Homo sapiens: one gene and its partners. The protein of the gene in region 4 interacts with the protein of the main gene of each other region in a pairwise test. Each region holds a gene or a part of one and is shown on either strand. Other genes may lie near its edges. The genes, in order: SMAD2, PBX3, TBPL1, PLIN3, ACMSD and TBC1D13.

What was found.
Region 1: the proteins of PLIN3 (region 4) and SMAD2 interact in a two-hybrid assay, tested with the Homo sapiens proteins (one large-scale study listed by BioGRID and IntAct).
Region 2: the proteins of PLIN3 (region 4) and PBX3 interact in a two-hybrid assay, tested with the Homo sapiens proteins (one large-scale study listed by BioGRID).
Region 3: the proteins of PLIN3 (region 4) and TBPL1 interact in a two-hybrid assay, tested with the Homo sapiens proteins (one large-scale study listed by IntAct).
Region 5: the proteins of PLIN3 (region 4) and ACMSD interact in a protein complementation assay, tested with the Homo sapiens proteins (one large-scale study listed by IntAct).
Region 6: the proteins of PLIN3 (region 4) and TBC1D13 interact in binary tests that used the Homo sapiens proteins (3 or more experiments, as listed by UniProt).

The regions. Positions count from the first base shown.
Region 1 is NC_000018.10:47,812,160-47,815,659, forward strand, and holds part of SMAD2 (mothers against decapentaplegic homolog 2), read right to left. Parts: 3' UTR 1-3,500. UniProt on the Homo sapiens protein: Receptor-regulated SMAD (R-SMAD) that is an intracellular signal transducer and transcriptional modulator activated by TGF-beta (transforming growth factor) and activin type 1 receptor kinases.
Region 2 is NC_000009.12:125,914,873-125,918,372, reverse strand, and holds part of PBX3 (pre-B-cell leukemia transcription factor 3), read right to left. Parts: intron 2,688-3,500; coding exon 2,446-2,687; intron 1-2,445. UniProt on the Homo sapiens protein: Transcriptional activator that binds the sequence 5'-ATCAATCAA-3'.
Region 3 is NC_000006.12:133,959,724-133,963,223, forward strand, and holds part of TBPL1 (TATA box-binding protein-like 1), read left to right. Parts: intron 1-3,500. UniProt on the Homo sapiens protein: Part of a specialized transcription system that mediates the transcription of most ribosomal proteins through the 5'-TCT-3' motif which is a core promoter element at these genes. Seems to also mediate the transcription of NF1. Does not bind the TATA box.
Region 4 is NC_000019.10:4,857,668-4,861,167, forward strand, and holds part of PLIN3 (perilipin-3), read right to left. Parts: intron 2,358-3,500; coding exon 2,159-2,357; intron 2,006-2,158; coding exon 1,923-2,005; intron 1-1,922. UniProt on the Homo sapiens protein: Structural component of lipid droplets, which is required for the formation and maintenance of lipid storage droplets. Required for the transport of mannose 6-phosphate receptors (MPR) from endosomes to the trans-Golgi network.
Region 5 is NC_000002.12:134,837,241-134,841,415, reverse strand, and holds the start of ACMSD (2-amino-3-carboxymuconate-6-semialdehyde decarboxylase), read right to left. Parts: upstream 2,801-4,175; 5' UTR 2,734-2,800; coding exon 2,677-2,733; intron 195-2,676; exon of another isoform or gene 1-194. UniProt on the Homo sapiens protein: Converts alpha-amino-beta-carboxymuconate-epsilon-semialdehyde (ACMS) to alpha-aminomuconate semialdehyde (AMS).
Region 6 is NC_000009.12:128,797,253-128,800,752, reverse strand, and holds part of TBC1D13 (TBC1 domain family member 13), read right to left. Parts: intron 1-3,500. UniProt on the Homo sapiens protein: Acts as a GTPase-activating protein for RAB35. Together with RAB35 may be involved in regulation of insulin-induced glucose transporter SLC2A4/GLUT4 translocation to the plasma membrane in adipocytes.

The DNA of each region.
Region 1 (3,500 bases), on a different chromosome or scaffold from region 4:
GAGGTAACTGAATCATGGGGGTGGGTCTTTCCCGTGCTGCTCTTGTAATAGTGAATAAGTCTCACGAGATCTGATGGTTTTATAAAGGGGAGTTCCCCTACACAAGCTCTCTCGCCTGATGCCATGTAAGATGTGTCTTGCTCCCCCTTCACCTTCTGCCATAATTGTGAGGCCTCCCCAGCCATGTAAAACTGTGAGTCAATTAAACCTCTTTTATAAATTACCCAGTCTCCGGTATCTCTTTATTAGCCGCGTGAGATCAGACTAATACAGCTGGGGAGGCCTCAGGAAACTTACAATTATGGCAGAAGGGGAAGCAGGCACCTTCTTCACAAGGTGGCAGAAGAGAGTGTGAGTGTGTGAAAGTACAGGAAAAACTACCATTTATAAAACCATCAGATCCTGTGAGAATTCACTATCATGAGAACAGCATGGGAGAACCACCCCCATAATACAATTACTTCCTTCCCTCAACATGTAGGGATTACAATTCAAGATGAGATTTGGGTGGGGATGGAGACCCAAACCATATCAGAGCTCATAACTTAAGTGGTGGTAATCAAATCTAAAGCACATTTTATAGCACACACACTCGCTATTCCAAGGTTCCTTTCATGAGTGTCCATGTCACTGTCTCCCCAGGACCCCCACAGGAGCCTTGCACAGGTATCTCATGAACATCCAAGTACCACTTCTTGTAGGAAGCAGGGGTAACTTTCAATAGGGGTGGTTAAGGAAGACTCTGCAGAGAGGATGGAATTTAAACTGGGTTCTGGCCAGGCAGGGTGACTCACACCTGTAATCCCAGCAGTTTGGGAGACCAAGGCAGGTGGATCACCTGAGGTCAGGAGTTTGAGACCAGCCTGGCCAACATAGTGAAACCCTGTCTCTACCAAAAATACAAAAATTAGCCAGGTGTGGTGGCGGGCACCTGCAATCCCAGCTACTCAAGAGGCTGAGGCAGAAGAATTGCTTGAATCCAGGAGGCAGAGGTTGCAGTGAGTCAAGACTGTGCCATTGCACTCCAGCCTGAGTGATGAAACTTGGTCTCAAAAATAACTAAATAACTAAATAAAATAAACTGGGTCCTTATTTTTAGAAAAGGATCTCACTTTGTCATCCAGGCTAGAGTGCAGTAGCACAAACATGGCTCATGAAGCCTCGACTTCCTGGGCTCAAGCAATCCTCCCACCTCAGCCTCTCAAGTAGCTGGGACTACAGGTGCCTGCCACCATGCCCAGCTAATTTTTTTTTTTTTTTTTTTTGAGATGGAGTCTTGCAATGTCACCCAGGCTGGAGTGCAGTGGCGCAATCTCGGCTCACTGCAACCTCTGCCTCCCGGGTTCATGCGATTCTCCTGCCTCAGCCTCCCGAGTAGCTGGGATTACAGGCACACACCACCACACCCGGCTAATTTTCTGCATTTTTAGTACAGATGGGGTTTCACTATGTTGGCCAGACTGGTCTCAAACTCGTGACCTCATGATCCACCTGCCTCGGCCTCCCAAAGTGCTGGGATTACAGGCATGAGCCACTGTACCCGGCCCCACAATTTTTTTTTTTTTTTTTTTTTGGAGAGATGGGATCTTGCTATGTTGATCAGGCTGGAAACCTGGGTCTTGAATAATGGATACATTTGGAAGTGCAGAGCAAAGGCCAGAGAGATATCCAAGCCAGAGAGATATCCAAGGCAGAACAAAGCTCATAATTTAACAAGAAAGGTAGGCATAGATAGGCCTAATTATGATGAATGCTCTCTTACCAGTATAAACAAATTACAAAGGGAGTGATGAGAAGAGGCAATGAAGTTTGGGGAGGGAAAGAAAAGTCTGTGGTGGAGGTGATAACCTGAACTTGGCTTTGAGGAATAAAGAGTTTTATATCAGGGCATCAAGAGAAGGATATTCAAGGTACTTAGGACCAGAACAGGCAAAGGCACTGAAGCAAGAGAGTCTGGGGCAAGAATGTCTCTATTGGGTCAAGACTTTGACAATATTAAAGATTCCATTTTCTTCATATATGCCCCCCTGCTGTCTTTCCAATAAAGGTAAGCCCTGAAGCCTGACAGTCACAGGAAAGGAGAGGGTGTGTACTAGAGTAACAGCACAGTTGCTACTCAGCTGTGAATCTCAGAGCCTGCCTTTATTATCTTGATTATTCTTTGGCATCTCTAGGAAGATGATAAGTAGTCTTCAAAGTCAGACTTTACTGAGAATGAGAAGGGAGTTCTACATGCTAAGAGCTCCATTCACATACTAAAAGCAAAGCTTGGACAACTGAACATGAGTTTTACTCCTAACCATGGATAAGAGAAACTGAGAATACGATGTGAGAAGAGTCTCTTCATTAGGCAGGAGTGGAATGACTCCCAGGGCAGGGAGAGATTGATTGAGATTGCAATTGCCCTGTTGGGAAATAAACGGAAACTTCAGGATGGGTATGCGAGTCTTGGAGCAGCAGGGTTAGTCAACTACTTTCCTGGCATAGCCTGGGGAAGACTGCAAGCCACTCAAAAAAGTCCTACTCATGACTTAGAGGCTTACCCAGTATGGCACAGGAGCACTAGCTCAGCATTGGTGGAAGGAGGTGTCTAGTCAGTCTGAGAAAATGTTGGCTTCCCAAAGCTTGAGCAAGATGTTCAGTACATCCCAAAGTTCCAACATCATCCCTTCCCACCCACTCCAAAGCCCAGCAGATTAACAGTCCCATAGTTGGGACATGGAAGCTATTAAGGTAGAGACCTTGAGACCAAAGGCAATGACAGAGTTGTGGTCAGGAGCAGGGCATGACAGCAGTGAACAAAAGCCAGGGACCCACTTACATTACCCAGTAGACTCAGTGACATCCAGCAAAGATGGCAGGATGAGCACCAGCAGCAGGACCGTCAAGGACCTCAGCACATACATTAGAGAAACTCTTTCCTGTGTCACCTGGAGATGACTGTTCTCACCCACTAGATGCCATCATGAGGAAGAAGCTAGGAAGAACCTTTGAAAAGCTGAGCATTTATCCAAAGAGATGGTTTTAAGCCTGAGATAGGCTATTTGAATCGAAAGAGAACGTTATCTTTGATTGGCAAGTTTAAGGCCATCCACCTCGTCCCACACCTTCCCAAAACCAGATGGGATGCATGAGAAATTGATGTGAAATGAAGGAACTGTAACTTCTTTTCTGCATGATCTGAGTTTTAATGTGTGGGAGCTGGGAAGAGGGAAGAACATTGATAGAAAATCTGAAAGCCCACAGGGAATGTGGTCTAAAGCAGAGGTTTAAGTCCTGGCTGATAATCATTTTGGGTTTTCTGAAAATGCAGATCCCAGTGCTCCAATTCCAGACCTGCTAAAGCAGAATCTCACAATTGAGGCCAGGGAACCTACATTTTAGAAGCTCTCCTTCTGACTCCAATTTGGAAACCATTTATTTAACCACTAGTACAAAAACTGGCCTTGAATAAGACATCACTTCCTCCAAGTCTGAGTACAGCACGCAAGGGCAACTGC
Region 2 (3,500 bases), on a different chromosome or scaffold from region 4:
AAACCCTGGTGATTTGATGCTGGTATAAGCTGGGGCTAAAGTTACATAAAATCTCATGGAAAATTTTGTAGGATATTTCTAAAACAGTGAGACTCAGGACCTTGTCATTGACTGACACCAGCTTCACACAACTTCCACCAGAGTGTATGGAGAAAGTAAGGAGGCAGGTGTAAAGACACATGGCAAGAGGTAGTAAGGAATCACCTTAATTCCTCAGCCAAAAAACTCAGGCCATTTGGCCTCTAATATTATATCTCTTTCCATGCAAGGTGACTGGTAGTGTTTATCTAGTAAGTAGTTATAGTTATTTTAGCATAAAGTTATACAATTAGGATTATACTACAAATAAGAGTCATTTTCTACTGTTTATGCTCAGGGGCAACCTTTTCAACCATGACTTATTTTGTTTACTCTCAATTATTCATATGTCAAATCAGAAAGTGGGATTTTTACATACATACACACGATAATTTTTCCAAAATTCTTATTTGTACATTTTCCACAAGAAGTTATTCTTACAAATGAGACTAGACATACAATTTTAGATCTCAGAAAATCCTATTCCAAAAATAGAAAACACCTTATAATATTAATTTACACTACTTTTTAACTTAAAGCTATACAAATTTTTCTACTCTTCCTCAAAACACACTCACCTCTGGGATAGGATTCAGCATTTGCTTAATACCATTGTATCCAGAATATTAGAAAAGGCAATGTGAAAAAACAACGATATATATAATTGAAACTATACAGGGAATGTAGAGGGGAAAAAATCAGTATTAAAACTGATCAGGGGTTGCCAGGGATCAGTGGGAAGGAAAGAATAAAAGAAGAGAGGGATGAATAGCACAGAGGATCTTTAGGGCAGTGAAAATACTCTGCATGACCCTATAATGATGGGTACATGCCATCATAAATTTATCCAAATCCATAGAGTGCACAATACCAAGAGTGAACCCTAATGTAAACTATGGATTTTGGGTGATAATGATGTGTCAATGTAGGTTAATCAATTTTAACAAATGAACCCCTCTGGTGGGGGATGCTGATAATGGGAGAGACTATGCATGTGTGGGGACAGGAGGTATATGTGATATCTCTCTTCTTTCCTCTCAAATTGGTCTGTGAACTTAAAACTCCTCTTTAAAAGAGTCTTTAAAATACACACAAACACACACAAAACTCACCAGGACTCCCATTTCACACTAAAGTGTGTGGACTTTAAAAAGTACTTGCCTACATAGTGAAATACTCATGGGTGAAATTATAGGATGTCTAAGACTTGCTTTAAAATACTCTTACCAAATTGGGGCTGGGTACACAAAATAAGAGTGGCAAAATGTTGATAACTGTTTATCTGGGTAAAAAGTATCTAGCTGATTCTGATTCCTTATTTGGGGTTGAACTCTATGAAATTACCATATTCAACTGTTTTTGGCCTCAAAACTTAGCAATTTCATAGGGTTCAATCTAATACTATTCTCATTATTTTTGTGTACATGTATTATAAAATGTTTCATAATACGTTTTTAAAATTACCTTCCAAATGACAAATCTTATCAAATGAGAATTCCTCAAACTTGGCAGCTTTTCAGCATTAAACTAACAACTAAAATATATGTAAAAAGACCCACCAATATTTTACTTTATTACATTAAATCTAAGACTCTCTTGTTTTTCTCCACATTTTAACATCTCTGAAATGTGAAAGCATTTTATAATCAGTAATATTTTATAGTTAAACTAGCAGTATTAATTTTTTCTTGGTGTTACATAAAGATGCAACTTAAAGTTATCTGAGATTCAGTATGGTTAATATAATTGCTGAGAACCAGATTTTTAACCCATATTCTCTTTCTAATAAGGAATTTAGCACATAATGCCTTGCCTAGCATTCCCTGTCCTGGGGTACCCATAATTATCTTGGGAGGTCTCATACTCAGAGAAACAGGCCGGAACCTGCTTACTTGGTGAAGTTCCCTATAGTCTGGCACAATCCATAAGAATTAATTCCCAGGAGGATTCTGGAGCTCACAGCATAGGAGGGAAAAGCTCACTGTGCAATGCTTCCCTTCAAAAGTGATTAAAGCTTATGAACAAGGCTAGTGCATAAATGTTAATTATACAGAGCTTTGAAGAGCACCAAGTGGTGAGGTGAGAGGGAAGAATGACTGCAGGTGTGGTAATAAGGGCACGTGAATGTGCGGAATGAATAAAACTAAAACAAGTAGATGGGATAAAATAGGTAGCGCTCCTCCTCCAAAATCTCAAAGGGTCTTCCTTTCATGAATCCAACAATTCACTTGGATTTTTGCACTGACCTTATTTATTTTGTAATTTGTGTTAACACCTACCCCTCACAGCCCTCAGAATTGGTTAGCATGGTCTAATAGAAGAGCAACAGAGGGTTTGTGTAGGACTATGAGAGTGGCGGCTGCTGACCTGTTCATATTTCTCCAGTTCTGTGTGATAGATTTGTCTGATCTGGGTCAATTTGGCTCTGTAATCTGAGTGTTCAATAGAGTTATCTGAAGAACCTCCAGAGGCTGCCGCGGCTGCAGCTGCTGCCGCCGATCCCCCACCTTTCTCAGGACCTGAAACCCCTTCTGCCAAAAGCATATTGTCCAGTCTCATTAGCTGGGGATCGGGAGGGTCCTCCTCCTGGGCTCCTCTGATGCTGAGACCTTCAAGGAAAGAGAGAGAGAGACAGAGAGAGAAGAAGCGAGAAACAGAGGACAAATAGTGTGAGTATTTTGTTTATTCGAGAAAATGATCAAACAACATCAGTGTACTACAATTCATGCTGAGAACTTCATTGTTCACATTTGATCGGTAAGTTTGAATAAGTATGAAAATTATTTTTAAGATAGTGTTTACATGCACCCTAGAATTTTAAATACCCCCCCACCGCCTCAATTTACCACAGACTAGATCCTTAGAAAAAGGTAACCCTGGCTTCCTGGAATATTTTAATCATTCAAGCTTCCCAGATTTAGATAATTTAAGCATAAAATGGGAAGAGGGTAAAAAATTGAATGTTTTAAGAAAGAAAGAAAATAATTACAGGGATATAAAACAACTCATCCAAAGGTGGTTATTCTGTCTCTCTCTGTACAGTTGGAGAAACAGAATTAAAATTCCCATAAAATAGTTAATTCACAAGCTGTAATCAAAAATTGAAAAATAAACAACATTAGATGAGCTTTTCCATCGTGTGATTTCAGAAGAGGAATACACACATTATGAGGTAACTGGCTATACTTAAATATATATATATTATTAAATGAATATTGTTAAGCAATTGCCAGCAAACTATAAAACGAGGATACTAAATACAGTATTAAAAATGTGCCATTGACATGGCAATACAGTGCTGGGCACAGTAGTCTCAATCTAATTTTGCTTTTAAATCAAGAACTTCCTAAGTGATGCCCAGTCAGCAACCTCTTCTGAGTACTATAGATCATAGCTGACAATTCATAGGTTTAATCAGGTCA
Region 3 (3,500 bases), on a different chromosome or scaffold from region 4:
CCCTCTGCCTCAGCCTCCCAAAGTGTTGGAATTACAGGCGTGAGCCATTGCACCTGGCCACCTAGTGTTCTTTCTATCACACTCTTTTTCAGGGACAGATGTTGCTGTCTTTCAGATATGAACATAATAAAGTCAATGTGTAACCCAAAAGTGCAAATATGAAGATGGAGATTTGATTTATGACTGTGGACAACATTTATAGGGCCTGTTACTGTTTGAAACTCAGTTAATGAACTTGAAGCTTTTGTGGAACAAGAACCACCCCATCCTTTTTAATTTGTCAGATGCTTCTGGTGAGCCGCAAGCGTTTTTCCTCTCACCTACTTATGGCTGCAGTGTGTTCCTTGGGCATTTCCAGTGACTTGTGTACATGTACAACCTAGGAAAGTTGTAATGAGCATACCTTAATTGCTTGTGGGTTGACCTCCTTCCAGGATCTTTGCTCGTTACAGATTAGGGTGGTTGCAGGGATCACAGACAACCATATTGAAGGCACAATGACTAATTCATTAGACCTTCCTCAACAGAAATTAGTGTGCTAATCTTAAAGGTACTCTGTTCTTTACTCTTCTTTTGTACTGAGGGGGGAGGCCCTCAGTAAGGGATGCTGAGTGGCTCAACAGATTAAAAAGCTATATTGCTAATGGAAATCTGTAGGTCTCAGTATAGCAGAGAAAGCCTTTGGCTGACCAGCCTTTTTTTTTTTTTTTTTTAATTTTAAGAAATTCAACACTACTCCTTGGCTGTGGCCAGTAATCTTGAAACTTCCACTTCAGTGCGCAGTACAAAACAACTTGGATAATTATTTAATTTGTCTGTACATTTAGAATGCATGCCTCTTGATTTACTCTTTCTAGGCTTTTGGTTTTGGCCTATTAAAATTAGAAGAGTTTCAAATGCCTGAAACAATATTCTGAATTTGTTTGTCTTGGTTATATATTTTTGCTGTCTCTTTGGGTATAGAGGAAAAATGGCTTCATCATCACACCCTGTTTAACTTTAACTGAATGGTTGATATCTTGGAAGTGACTGACAGGGTGGCCATTCTCTGATGACCGGCTATAGTGGAATTAGCTGTAGGCTATAGAACATGGGTGAGTTAGAACCCTTGGGGATGAAGAAAAGGAGACAGTAACTTTCAGAGGATGAGAAAAGGGAATATAAAAAATGCTGAAGGTCAGTAGGTGTGTTTTAATTAAAATAATTCTTTTCTTACATCAGAAATATATTTTTGTATTTGTAAAAGCTCCTGGAACACAGTTGCTCTTCAGGATTTGGGGGTCTGACCTAAAACCATTAGTAACTTGTTAGGTGTAGGAGCACTAAGTAGTATAATATACCAGAAAGTGAAGTAAGGGAAGAGTTGGATACTGTTGGAGAACTTGAGTCAGTTGAGGCTACTCAGATTCTTATTGCTATCGTGAAAGATATCTACTGTTTACACTTACCTGCCCCCAACCCCACAAACCATTTTCTCAGTTGTTCTTAAGGTATTCATTTAATTCATCAACTTTTTATTGAGTTTAGGACCAAATGCCAGCAATTCAGCCAAGTTCTAAAGACACACATTTAAATTAAACAGTTATCTTCAAGGAGCTTGGTGTCTGCAGTTCAGTAGACACTTATAACACCAACAGTACCATTCATTTGCTGTGCCCTCTGCCGGGTTGCTCTTCTCCCAGTGTTTCATATGGCTGGCTACTTCTTATCCTTTAAGATCTCTTTTTAAGATTCTTTCTTTCTTTTTTTTTTTTTTTTTTTTTGAGACGGAGTCGTGCTCTGTCACCCATGCTAGAGTGCAGTGGTGCAATCTCGGCTCATTGCAACCTCCGCCTCCCGAGTTCAAGCATTCTTCTGCCTCAGCCTCCTGGGTAGCTGGGATTACAGGTGCACATCACCATGCCCGACTAGTTTTTGTATTTAGTAGAGATGGGGTTTCACCATGTTAATCGGGCTGGTCTTGAATCCCTGACCTCGTGATCCATGCGCCTTGGCCTCCCAAAGTGCTGGGATTACAGGTGTGACCCACCGCACTTGGCCAAGAATTATTTCTTACCTCTTAAGAAAGTTGAAAGACCTTCCCTGGATCATTGCTCCTGAAGTTTCTCTTTCATTATCTCGTTTCCTTTATAACATAGATCACATTCTCTTGATTATTTTGTCAGCCTATTTGTTGTCTTTTTCTTCCACTGAAATACAACTGCCATGAGAGTTGCTTGCCTGACCATTTTGTTCTGAGCTGTATTCCCAGTGTCTACCCGCAGAGCTTGGTTCACATGAGTTGCATACTAAATATGCAATTATGCGTAAAAGTTTCCTAGTTGAAGGAGTGGGGAAAGGACGATTTAGGCAGCTATAAAACCGCGAAACAGTCTGTTATTGGAAGAGGAATGGTGTAAAGCTGAGAATGTTAAGGTGTGTTGGAAGTGGAAGATTAGGTTATATAAGGAAGATCGGGGGTGGGAAGTCCACTGCATTCCAAGGCAAGCAGATGAGATTCTGTTTTTCATTCTAAGAGAGCCAAGAGATGCTTCTTCAGATAGGGAGACAATTAGGAAGATAATCCTGGTAGCTATTTGGTAGATGGATTAGAGCATGGAGAATGCAAGCAGAGAGTTCTATTAGAAGCCTGTAGCCATAATGACATGTGAGCTGGCCTAAAATAAAACGTTGCTTTGGATGCAGAAAAGAAGCTAGATTAAAAGTTAACTGAGCAGAGGAGAAGAATGAGAGATGAAGGATGATTCTGAAATTTCTGGTTGAAGTGAGCGAGTGTTAATTGTGACTCACTCCATTCACAGAATTACAAGGAGATAGAGCAAGATTTCTTGAGGTGCTTAATGAGTTTTGTTTGTATGTGTCGATTTTAATAGATATGCCTAATAGATGATTGGGAATATGGATTCAGATATCTGATAGGTCAGGATAGATGTAGGAGCCAGCCATAAGCTCATAGATAGCAACTGAGGCCTGAAAAGTTTAAAGAGGAAAAGGATTTCAGGCAGTGGTTTATAACCTTTAGGGATCTTAAACCTATTGGTAATATGAAAAAAACAATGGCCTTCTCAGGTACAGATTAGTGTGTATACAATTTCAGGGGGTTCCTAACCTGTGGAACCTATTGTTGAGCTTTTCAGGGTCTGGCATGGATTTCAGTTAAGAACTTCTGATTTAAGGAACAGACAGAGAAGTATATGAGATGGGGAGAGAATTCAAGAAAGCTTCTTCAGAATCCAGGGATAGGACATGGCAAGGGAGCAGTTGGAGAATCAGAAGTTCCCAGTGCTTTATGCTCTAGAGTAGGAGGGAGTTTAAAGTGTGCCATTGAATTCAGCAATGAGCCATTCATTTGTAACATTTTGTACTGTGTAGAGGCAGAAGACAGATTATGCTGGTTTAAAAGCATGAAGTGGAGTTTGGGAAACAAGGGATGGTAAACAGAATGTAGAAGTCTTGATGTTCTCTGAAAAACAGTACTGATAGAAGAATAGAGCCCTTTT
Region 4 (3,500 bases):
TTCTGTAGAAAAGAAAGTGGGACCCAGGCTGGGCCTGGTGGCTCATGTCTGTAATCCCAACACTTTGGGAGGCCAAGGCAGGTGGATCACCTGAGGTCGGGAGCTCGAGACCAGCCTGACCAACATGGTAAAACCCCATCTCTACTAAAAATACAAAAATTGGCCAGGTGTGGTGGCACATGTCTGTAATCCCAGCCACTCGGGAGGCTGAGGCGGGAGAATCGCTTGAACCTGGGAGGTGGAGGTTGCAGTGAGCTGAAACTGCACCAGTGCACTCCAGCCTGGGCAACAAGAGCGAAACTCCATCTTAAAAAAAAAAAGAGGGGGCCGGGCACAGTGGCTCATGCCTGTAATCCCAGCACTTTGGGAGGCCGAGGCGGGAGGATCACGAGGTCAAGAGATTGAGACCATCCTGGCCAACTTGGTGAAACCCCGTCTCTACTAAAAATACAAAAATTAGCTAGGCGTGGTGGCAGACGTCTGCAACCCCAGCTACTCAGCAGCCTGAGGCAGGAGAATCGCTGGAACCCGGAGGTGGAGGTTGCAGTGAGCCGAGATTGCACCACTGCACACCAGCCTGGCAACAGAGCAAGACCCCGTCTCAAAAAAAAAAAAAAAAAAAAAAAAGTGAGGCCCACAGAGGCAAAGTAACTTGTGTGAGGGCCACCCAGCTGCTGAGGGGCAGGACACAGTTTGGAACATGGTGTTTTTTTTGTTTTGTTGTTTTTGAGACAGAGTCTCGCTCTGTCGCCCAGGCTGGAGTGTAGTGGCGCGATCTCAGCTCACTGCAACCTCCGTCTCCTGGGTTCAAGTGATTCTCTTGCCTCAGCCTCCCGAGTAACTAGGACTACAGGCACACGCCACCACGCCAAGCTAATTTTTTTTTTTGTAGTTTTAGTAGAGATGGGGTTTCACTGTGTTTGCCAGGATGGTCTCGATCTCCTGACCTTGTGATCCGCCCACCTCAGCCTCCCAAAGTACTGGGATTACAGGCATGAGCCACCGCGCCTGGCCAGAATATGGTGTTTTTTTGGTTTTTTTTTTTTTTTTTGAGATGGAGTTTCACTCTTGCTGCCCAGGCTAGAGTGCAATGGCATGATCTCGGATCACTGCAACCTCCGCCTCCAGGGTTCAAGAAATTCTCCTGCCTCAGCCTCCCGAGTAGCTGGGATTACAGGCACCCGCTACCACACCCAGATAAATTTTGTATTTTTAGTAGAGACGGGGTTTCTCCATGTTGGTCAGGCTGGTCTCAAACTCCCAACCTCAGGTGATCCTCCCGCCTTGGCCTCCCAAAGTGCTGGGATTACAGGCATGAGCCACCGCGCCCGGCCAGGAACATGGTGTTTTGATGTTTTGACTTTCCTGCCGCCAACCTTTTCTGACTAATAAGTTATGGAGGTGGCAACATTCTGTGTAAAGGGCCACGTAACTAAGATTTTCAGTACTGTGGGTCACAGTCTCTGTCACAACTACTCAACCTTGCCATTGTAGGGTGAAAGCAGTCATAGACAATATGTAAATAAATGGGCATGGCTGTGTGCCAATAAAACTTTATTATAAAAACAAGTGGGCTGGGCACCGTGGCTCATTCCTATAATCCCAGCACTTTGAGAGGCTGAGGCAGCTGGATCACCTGAGGTCAGGAGTTCGAGACCAGCCCGGCCAACATGGTGAAACCCCATCTCTACTAAAAATACAAAAACTAGATGGGCATGGTTGCAGGCGCCTGTAATCTGGCTGGCTTTGCAATTATTCCTCCAGCTACCCTGTGGGGAGTGGATTCGGGGTGGGGATGGGAACCGACAGGAGAGGCAGCAGGGAGGATGCCATCAAGCTTGTCTAGTTAAGCTGGGACCAGCGCACTCCACACCCAGGTAGGTCCCTGTCTCGACAGAGCCCCTGAGGACGGACATCGTTACCTTCTCCGTGGGCTGCTGCAGGATGGGGAGGTTCTCCTCCAACTTGTCCAGCCCCCTGTGGGCGTATTCGCTGGCTGATGCAACTGCCAACAACAATTAAGACGCAAATGTGACTGCTGGAAGGTCACCTAGTAATGGTTCAGGGGGACAGGACCAAGAGCTGGGTAGACCCCCCTACTCCCCACCCAGGGAAATGACCAGGAGGGGAATTCAGTGCCCCCTGGGACTTCACCCACTCTGGGGCTCCAGCTTGGAGAGGATCGGCTGAGCCCCGCTGACAGCAGCCGCCGTGAGGGTCCTCACTCCCTTCTCTGCTGCGTCGCAGACAGTCTTGATGTGCGGGTAGCTCTCCTTGGTGGAGGCATAGGCTGCGGACACCATGTCGCAGGTGGAGCTGATCAGAGGCATGCTGGCCACACGGTCCACCACACTGGGCTACAGGAGAGAAGTGGCTCAGGCAAACTGGGTGGGGGAAGATGGGGAGCTCAGCCGGAAACTCAGGGTGCCCTGCAGTTTTGCTCTTACTCCTGGCCAGTGAAACGGCTCAGTTTACCCACACTTTGCATCCAGGCAGTTGCACAAGCCAGGAACCTTGGGGTTTCGCCACGTGCTTCCTTTATTTTTATTTTATTTTTGAAACGGAGTCTTGCACTGTTGCCCGGGCTGGAGTGCACTGATGCGATCTCAGCTCACTGCAACCTCCACCTCCCAGGTTCAAACGATTCTCCTGCCTCATCCTCCTGAGTAGCTGGGATTACGGGTGCCACCACGCCCAGCTAATTTTTTTGTATTTTTAGTAGAGATGGGGTTTCACCATGTTGGCCAGGCTGGTCTTGAACTCCTGACCTCGTGATTCGCCCACCTCAGCCTCCCAAAGTGCTGGGATTACAGGCGTGAGCCACCGCACTCAGCCCACGTGCTTCCTTGAACACAGGCTATTTACATGAGCCTGCACTTTATCCCAGCGATGTGCCAGGTGGTGATAAGGGACAACAGTTCCATTCTCATGGCAGTTAGGGTCTAAACCGGGGGCTGTAGACCACAGCCCATGGGTCACAGCCAGCGCACCACTTGATTTTTAAATTTTAATTATTTTTGGGGCCAGGAGCAGTGGCTCACGCCTGTAATCCGAGCACTTTGGGAGACCGAGGCGGGTGGGTCACTTTGGGTCAGGAGTTTGAGACTAGCCTGGCCAACATGGTGAAACTCCGTCTCTACTAAAAATACAAAAATTAGCCGGGCGTGGTGGCACATGCCTGTTACCCCAGCTACTTGGGAGGCTGAGGCAGGAGAATTGCTTGAACCCAGGAGGCAGAGGTTGCAGTGAGCCAAGATGTCACCACTGCACTCCAGGCTGGGCGACACAGCAAGGTTCCATCTCAAAAATATATACATAAAATAAAATCACCTGAGGATGAGAGATCTGGAATAGAAACTGGCCTCCTAGGACGTCCCTGAGAGAGCCTTCAGAGGTGAGGATGATTTGGCTCAGGGGTTGGGGAGGGCAGGTAGTTTCAGACAGAACCCTGCTCCCTCAGGCCCTCCAAGGGCCTTTGAGATTCCCCCCTCCCAACTGGG
Region 5 (4,175 bases), on a different chromosome or scaffold from region 4:
CATCACTTCAGGCGTGTTGATTCTGCTTTTCTGTCTCTTCATTGTGCAAGAAGGTCAAGGTTATTCCAGCAGCAGTACTCTCTTGGGCCAGTTTTCTCAAGATGGGTGTGGTGGTGGGGAGGCTCTTGAGGGACCACGGTGGCCTCTCATAGCTCTGGGATTCTAGGTTCATTTCTGAGTCTCAAGCATCTCATCTGTCAAGTGAATAATATAAATCTTATCTGCATATTTCACAAGGTTTATGTAAATTATTTCTCCCTCTGTCTCTCCCTGGAAGTACGAAGTGTTATGACTATAATGATGGAAATGATGTAGATGGTGATGATGAAGTGTATCAGCTGTCTGCTTGCAGCATATGAGACTACTACATAAGAAGAAACCTGGTTTGGAATGAAAAACCAAACATCATATGTTCTCACTCATAAGTGGTAGCTAAGTTATGAGGATGCAAAGGCATAAGAATGACACGATGGACTTTGGGGACTCGGGGAAAGGGTGGGAAGCAGATGAGGGATAAAAGACTAAAATTGGGTGCAGTGTATACTGCTTGGGTGATGGGTGCACCAAAATCTCACAAATCACCACTAAAGAACTTACTCATGTAACCAAACACCACCTGTTCCCCAATAGCCTATGGAAATAAAAATAAATACATAAAAATAAAAAAAGAAGAAGAAACCTGGTTTATTGGGACAAAATTCCTCTCCCTCTTTAAAGCAATAGCTGGTGATAGAAAGGAGAGGGAGTTTGGAAGCTGGGAAGTCCAAGATCTGGTGAGAACCCGCTTCCTGGTTCTAAGATGGTGCCTTCTTGCTGTGCCCTCACGTGGCAGAAGGGGCGAACAAGCTTCCTTGGGCTTACTTTATAAGGGCACTAATCTCATACATGAGGGCTCTGCTCTCATTACCTAATCACCTCCAGAAGGCTGCATCTCCTAATACCATTGCCTTGTGGATGAGGGTTTCACCTGAATTTTGGGGGGGACATACACATTCAGACTGTAGCTCTCTCTAAGCCTCAAAATCCTGTCTGCACAAGGAGGTGTATGCCCTGGAGCTTGGAGCCCTGCTTGGAGGGTCGATCATGCTAGCTAGCTTTCTCAGTGGGATAGTACAGGGGGGCGTTGTCCTCTAGAGACCACCGTGGTGGTTTCCAAAGCATTTCATGTGGATATTCTTTCATACTCAAATAGAGAAAAAAGCTGTAACAGAGGAATTAGTGGTTTTTTTTTTTTTTTTTTTTTTTTTTGCTAGGTATAGTTTATGGCTATTTTAAAATACCAAATACTAAAATTTGGATTTTTCTAAAACTCTCAGATTAGGGAGTATAATCTATTGCTTCCATTACCTGTATCACAAGTTAGTCAATGTGTTCATTGCATCATTCATCAGGCAAATACTCATAAATGAGGGGTAGAAAGTGGTGGGCGCCATAAGATGTAAGAAACTGCATGCAGCTTCTAAACAAGGCAGATGCACTCCCACAAAGTAACTGGTGCATTCCCTTCATGAAATCATTAACATTGTGAAGTGGTTTACACTTCAGTAAACTATGATGAGGACAACAGCACTCAGAACAGCATGTTCCTGTGTAAACATGTAGAGTCCTTTTAGGAAGAGCAGGTTGAGAGGTTTATCTTTTATCGTTAGCTGTGCATAGGATAGGCTTTCAAAGATTTTGTTTTTCAATCCACAGTTTCTACCACCCCTCTTACCTAAGATACCAATGGACAAAGAAATACTTAAGATAAACATTCTTCAATGAGACAACTATGAGAAGAAAATAGTTTCATCTATTTGCACAATGAACCACATTTAATTCAAGTTTGGGTTAATTCATTTTCCCTCACTTGGGATAAAAAAGTTGAAACATTATCGGTGGTGTGAAAGTACTGGCAGAATGCTGAAGATTGGGTAAAACCTGATATTAAGCCTGAACAAACCTCTAGCCAATTTTACATTTCTTTCATGTTCCTCACCTTCCTCTTTTTATATTCATTCAAAAGTTCTTAATGACAAAAGGAAATTTCCATCTTTAGAGAAACACAAAGAATACTCTCTTAGGAGATGTCACTGTGCAAAAGCTTCATGTCATTTATTCTCGGGTTTTTTGATGTACCTACTTCCTAGTTCTTCAGGACAAAGATTTATAGAATAAAGAACATCAAACAGTAAAGGTTTCAGGCAGTGTCCTAAAATAGACTAAAAAAATTCACAAAGCTATCTCTTGGTGCTTCTAAAACTTATTTTAAACATTTTGGAAAGGAGATATATTTTAGAAGTCCTTGAAACCGATCACATTCCATTTTTAATGGTCTTCTACTTAAAATTGTAACTTTAAATTCTGTAGTTGGCATGTATCTTCCCAGCAGCTGAATATGTGATTTTTGAAAAGGTAAATCTGCCTTATTTAAATTGTCCAGATATTTTAAAGAATGGTTCATTTGAGGGAAAAAAGGGTTTCTGAGAAAGCACTTATTTCTTTAATCCAATGTTATTTCAAAATAAATATAAAAGTCATTTTTAAAAGCTAGAAAATCAGAACTACCAAATGATTTAACCCCCTCGCCCCCCACCAAAGCAGATAAACTAGACATCTAATTCCACAAAGAAGAGAAAGGCATTGAGAAACCCTGGAGAAGTTTCAGAAATAATTCAGCAAATTAATTACCATTACCTTTTTTAGATCTGGCCATTCTTTTGGTAGAATATGACTATGGATGTCAATTTTCATCTCCACAGGATCAGAGAAGCATGCAAGGAAAGAAGTTTTGATATCAAGAGACCTTTGTGAAAACTGTGGAGTTAATTGATTTACTTAGTCCCTTTACAGCAACCTTCAGGCAGCAGTCAGTAGGCCTGCCCAACCCAGTCTAGGTCCATTAGAACTGCTTTATTAAAGTTCAAAGTTCTGTTTATTTGTTAACCAAGCTTTGGTTAACCAAGCTTTATTTGTTAATCAAGCTTTGGGTCAACACAGTTTGGTAGTCAGGACTCTTGGCACAAAACTTAAAAAAACAAAAACAAAAACAAAAACAAAAAAACAACTGTACTCAACTGTATGAGGTCAAAAGCACAGCAGGATGCTTTGACTTACAGCAGGTCAAAAATTGACTGATTTTTCATTTTAAATATTTTAACTTAGTTGTACATAGTTAATAATTAAATAGTTTGTAGTTAAAAATAAAACCATGCAGAGGGCTTTTACAGAAAAAGGATAGATCCCTGACTCACCTTTTCTTACTTTTCCTTGCACTATTCAGAAGCAGCCAGTTTTTATGATTTTGCTTTTTGTTCAGTTAGTTACTCCCATATCTTTAAATAATATTTAACAGTTGTCTTGTTCATGAAAATTTAACGTGTTGAAAAGTTATGGGGAGGTTTCACATTTTAAATCACAGAAAGAGTCCACTCTTCATATATGTTTTTTCCTCCAGTGCCTTTGTCTTGGACTCATTCATTCATGCATTTTTTTCCTTTTTTTTTTGTTTTTTAATTTGAGATGCGGTCTCACTATATTGCCCAGGCTGGTATGGAATTCCTGGGCTCAAGCAATCCACCCACCTTTGCCTCCCAAAGTGCTGGGATTACAGGCGAGAGCCACTGCACCCAGCTTCATTCATGCATTTAACAAACATTTATGGAGAACTGCTATATGCTGACGATGTAAGGTTGACTGAGAGAAAGATGATACATATCCTAAAGTGTAGGGAAAAGAAGATAGTAGCCATTTCCATTTAGCATTATCAGAGCAGTCAGGGAGGGCTTCCAATATAGCAGAAAGTGGGGCTTATATGGTCATGCCTCTAAAGAGAGCCTGGAACAAAACAGCCCTTGATTGTTCTGTGTTTACCCTTTCCTCTTCCTGAACAGCTTAAAATGTTCAAGGGACCCCAGGTCCCCTGGCAAACCCTTAAACCTGCCTTGGTTGCTGCCTTCAGCTCAGACTCCACAACACATAAATTGAGTAGTCAAAAAGCTTCCTTCTGTAATTCAGCTAGATTCTGGATAAATTATAACAGACAGCTTGAAAGAAAATAAAGGAAATCCTTGAAATCCATTTTTTTAGAAGTTCAGTGAGCTAAAACTGAATGAGTAAGCCTTAAACTAACATGGAGGCACTTGCTAATACTGAGTAAGTAAGTGCAAGCATTTTTAGAGCACTCCCAATGGGCC
Region 6 (3,500 bases), on a different chromosome or scaffold from region 4:
TTGCATTTAGATGGAAAGTATACAGATAGTTATCCAGTGTACTCTCCTTTCAACTTTCCTGAATGTTTGAAAATTTTCATAAGAAAAGGTTGGAGGCCAGGCACAGTGGCTCACACCTGTAATCCCAGCACTTTGGGAAACTGAGGTGGGTGGATCACTTTAGGTCAGGAGTTCGAGACCACCCTGGCCAAAAATCTCTACTAAAAATACAAAAATTAGCCAGGTGTGGTGGCACGCGCCGATGATCCCAGCTATTCAGGAGGCTAAGGCACGAGAATTGCTTGAATCCAGGAGGCAGAGGTTGCAGAGCGCCAAGATTGTGCCACTGCACTCCAGCCTGGAAGAAACAGCGAGACTGTCTCAAAAAAAAAAAAAAAAAAAAAAAGTTGGAAGATAAATAAAGAGATGATGATCCCTACTGAAGACTCCTACAATGAGCACGGGTCCCCAACACCAGCTGCCTGCCAGGATCCCTTGGGAACTTTGTAAATCAAGTGCTGGGCCCGGCCCTAGGCCTGCTCAGGCGGAAGCTCCAGAGGTGAGTGACCCATATGCGAGAACCCAGGCAGTGACAGTGGATGAAGCCATCCTGGAAGCATAGGGTCCTGGAGACATTAAACTCTCTCTCCCCTAACATACACATACATATGTATGCGCACACATGCAGGGATGTTCACACACACAGACACACATCAGCCACATTTACCAAGAGCTTTTTTATTTTTTATTTTTGAGACGGAGTCTCGCTCTGTCGCCCAGGCTGGAGTGCAGTGGCGCGATTTCGGCTCACTGCAAGCTCTGCCTCCCGGGTTCACGCCATTCTCCTGCCTCAGCCTCCCGAGTAGCTGGGACTACAGGCGCCTGCGACCACACCTGGCTAATTTTTTGTATTTTTAGTAGAGACGGGGTTTCACCATATTAGCCAGGATGGTCTCGATCTCCTGACCTCATGATCCGCCCGCCTCAGCCTCCCAAAGTGCTGGGATTACAAGCGTGAGCCACGCCTGGCCCTTAACAAGAGCTTTTTATGCGGCAGACAATGCTGTACAGGTATTCCTCCATTTAATCCACTGAACAATCTAAAATATTCTCTCAACATCATTTTCAAGATGAGGAAACTGAGGCTCAGAAATGTCGGGCCACTCCTTAAATGTCTAACATTAGGTGTTGGCATCAGGACTTGACCCTGAACTGGCTGACTCCCAAACCTAAGGTCCAGGACTTCAGGGCAGGCTGCCTCCTGAGGATGCCCAGGGCTTTCTGCTTTTGAAGAATCTGCACAGCCATGACCTCATTTCATCCTCTTGGCAGCTCAGGCAGGGCAGAAATGATTATGCCCAGTTTATGGTCTAGGAAACAAAGGCCAGGATATGTGTGACTTGCCCAGAGTCACACAGATGGTCTTTAACTCAAACTGCCCAATCACGAACCCAGAGGCTTAGGGATGAAGTTTCTGGTGGGTTCTCTGCTACCAGGACCAAAAGTTAAACCAGGTAACAGTGCTCTTTACACCTAGTTACTACAGTGAAAGGAATGACAGGAGCCAGTCCCCTCCCGGCCCTTCAGCCAGGAAATCAGCAGCCAAGAGTACTGCCCACAAAGCCAGCCTCCTGGTTATCTAGTCACGCAATCTGCACTGCACAGCAGTTCTGCTGGGCACCCAACTCTCGTAGGCACCTGCAACCCTGGATCGGCCATATCTGCCCCTGCCTGTCAGAGCTTCGATCAAAGTCATTTCCAGCTGGGTGTGGTGGCTCACGCCTGTTATCCTGGCACTCTGGGAGGCCCAGGTAGGAGGATCGCTTAAGCTCAGGAGTTCAAAACCAGTCTGGGTGTCATCGCAAGACTCTGTCTCTATTTAAAAAAATAAAACAAACAAACAAACAAAAAACAAAGTCATTCCCCAGGGGGAGAAAAACTTCTGCAGCAGTATCTGCCCTAGCTTGTTGGAGGCTACAGAAAAGGGTTTTTCCATTGATGGAAGACAGTGAAAAGTTTAGGGGAACAAGCCACTATTCCAGAGACCAAAGTAGGGGGTGTAAATTAAGGAATAAGATAATATACTTGTTTGACTACAAGGAGCTTCTCAGAGTGACAGGAATCTATTAAAAGTTGGGGGTCCTATCAGTTCCACCCAGAGTCTCTCAGATCTAACCCTGCTGCATCCCTGCCCCCACCACCTCTTGCCTAGACAACTGCAGTGGCCTTCCAGGTAGCCTCTCTACCGCCACTCCTGTATCTCCACAGTGCCTAAAGCATTTCCGACACAAGCAGATGTGAATTATGTCACTGCCCTGCTTACACTGCTGTAAAGGATTCTCCCCACCCCTCATGACAAAGGCCCCAAGTGGCCTTACCAGCACCAACCTCTTCACTCGCTCTCTGCTTCTAGCCACCCCGTGGCCTCCCTGACCTGGAACACACCACGCTCTCTCCCGCTGAGGACTTCGGCATATGCCCTCCTCTCCACCTGGAATGTTCTCTTCTTTTCTTTTTTTTTTTGACAGGGTCTCGTTTTGTCACCCAGGCTGGAATGCAGTGGTATAATCTAGACTCACTGCAACCTCCACCTCCCGGGTTCGAGCAATTCTACTGCCTAAGCCTCCCGGGTAGCTGGGATTACAGGCACCTGCCACCATGCCCAGCTAATTTTTGTATTTTTAGTAGAGACAAGGTTTCACCATGTTGGCCAGGCTAGTCTTGAACTCCTGACCTCAGGTGATCCACCCACCTCGGCCACCCAAAGTGCTGGGATTACAGGCATGAGCCACCACACCTGGCCAGGGCCAAATTTTTGTATTTTCAGTACAGATGGGGTTAAATCCCCGGGTTAGTCAGGCTGGTCTTGAACTGCTGGCCTTAAGTGATCTGCCTGTCTTGGCCTGCCAAAGTGCTGGGATTACAGGCATGGGCCATTGTGCCTGGCCGTTTTCTTAATTTTTATTTTTTTGAGACAGGGTCTGGCTCTGTCACCCACGCTGGAGGGCAGTAGTGTGATGTAGGCTCACTGCAACCTCTGCCTCCCAGGCTCAAACCATCCTCCTACCTCAGCCTCCTGAGTAGCTGGGACTACAGGCACATGCCATCATGCCCAGCTAATTTTTGTATTTTTTGTAAAGACAGGGTTTCACCATGTAGCCCAGGCTGGTCTTGAACTCCTGGGCTCAAGCAATCCTCCTGCCTCAGCCTCCCAAAGCGCTGGGATTACAGGCGTGAACCACTGTGCCCAGCCCTATCACATTTTCTCACATTTGTAATGACCTTCTCAGAGCCATCCCCACTATAAGATTAGAAGCCTGGCTCATTCACTCACTGTGATGCAGGGCCCTTCCCAGCAGCCATTACACCCAGATGGGACACAGTGAACCTCTGTTACCCAACTTTTAGAAAGCACCCCAGGATCTGGCAGCATCAGGATTGCGCTGAGTAACTGTCAAGCAGATGGTCATGGCCCGACACCTTGTGGCCAGGAGTTTAAGAGAAAAAGGAAAGAAAATACT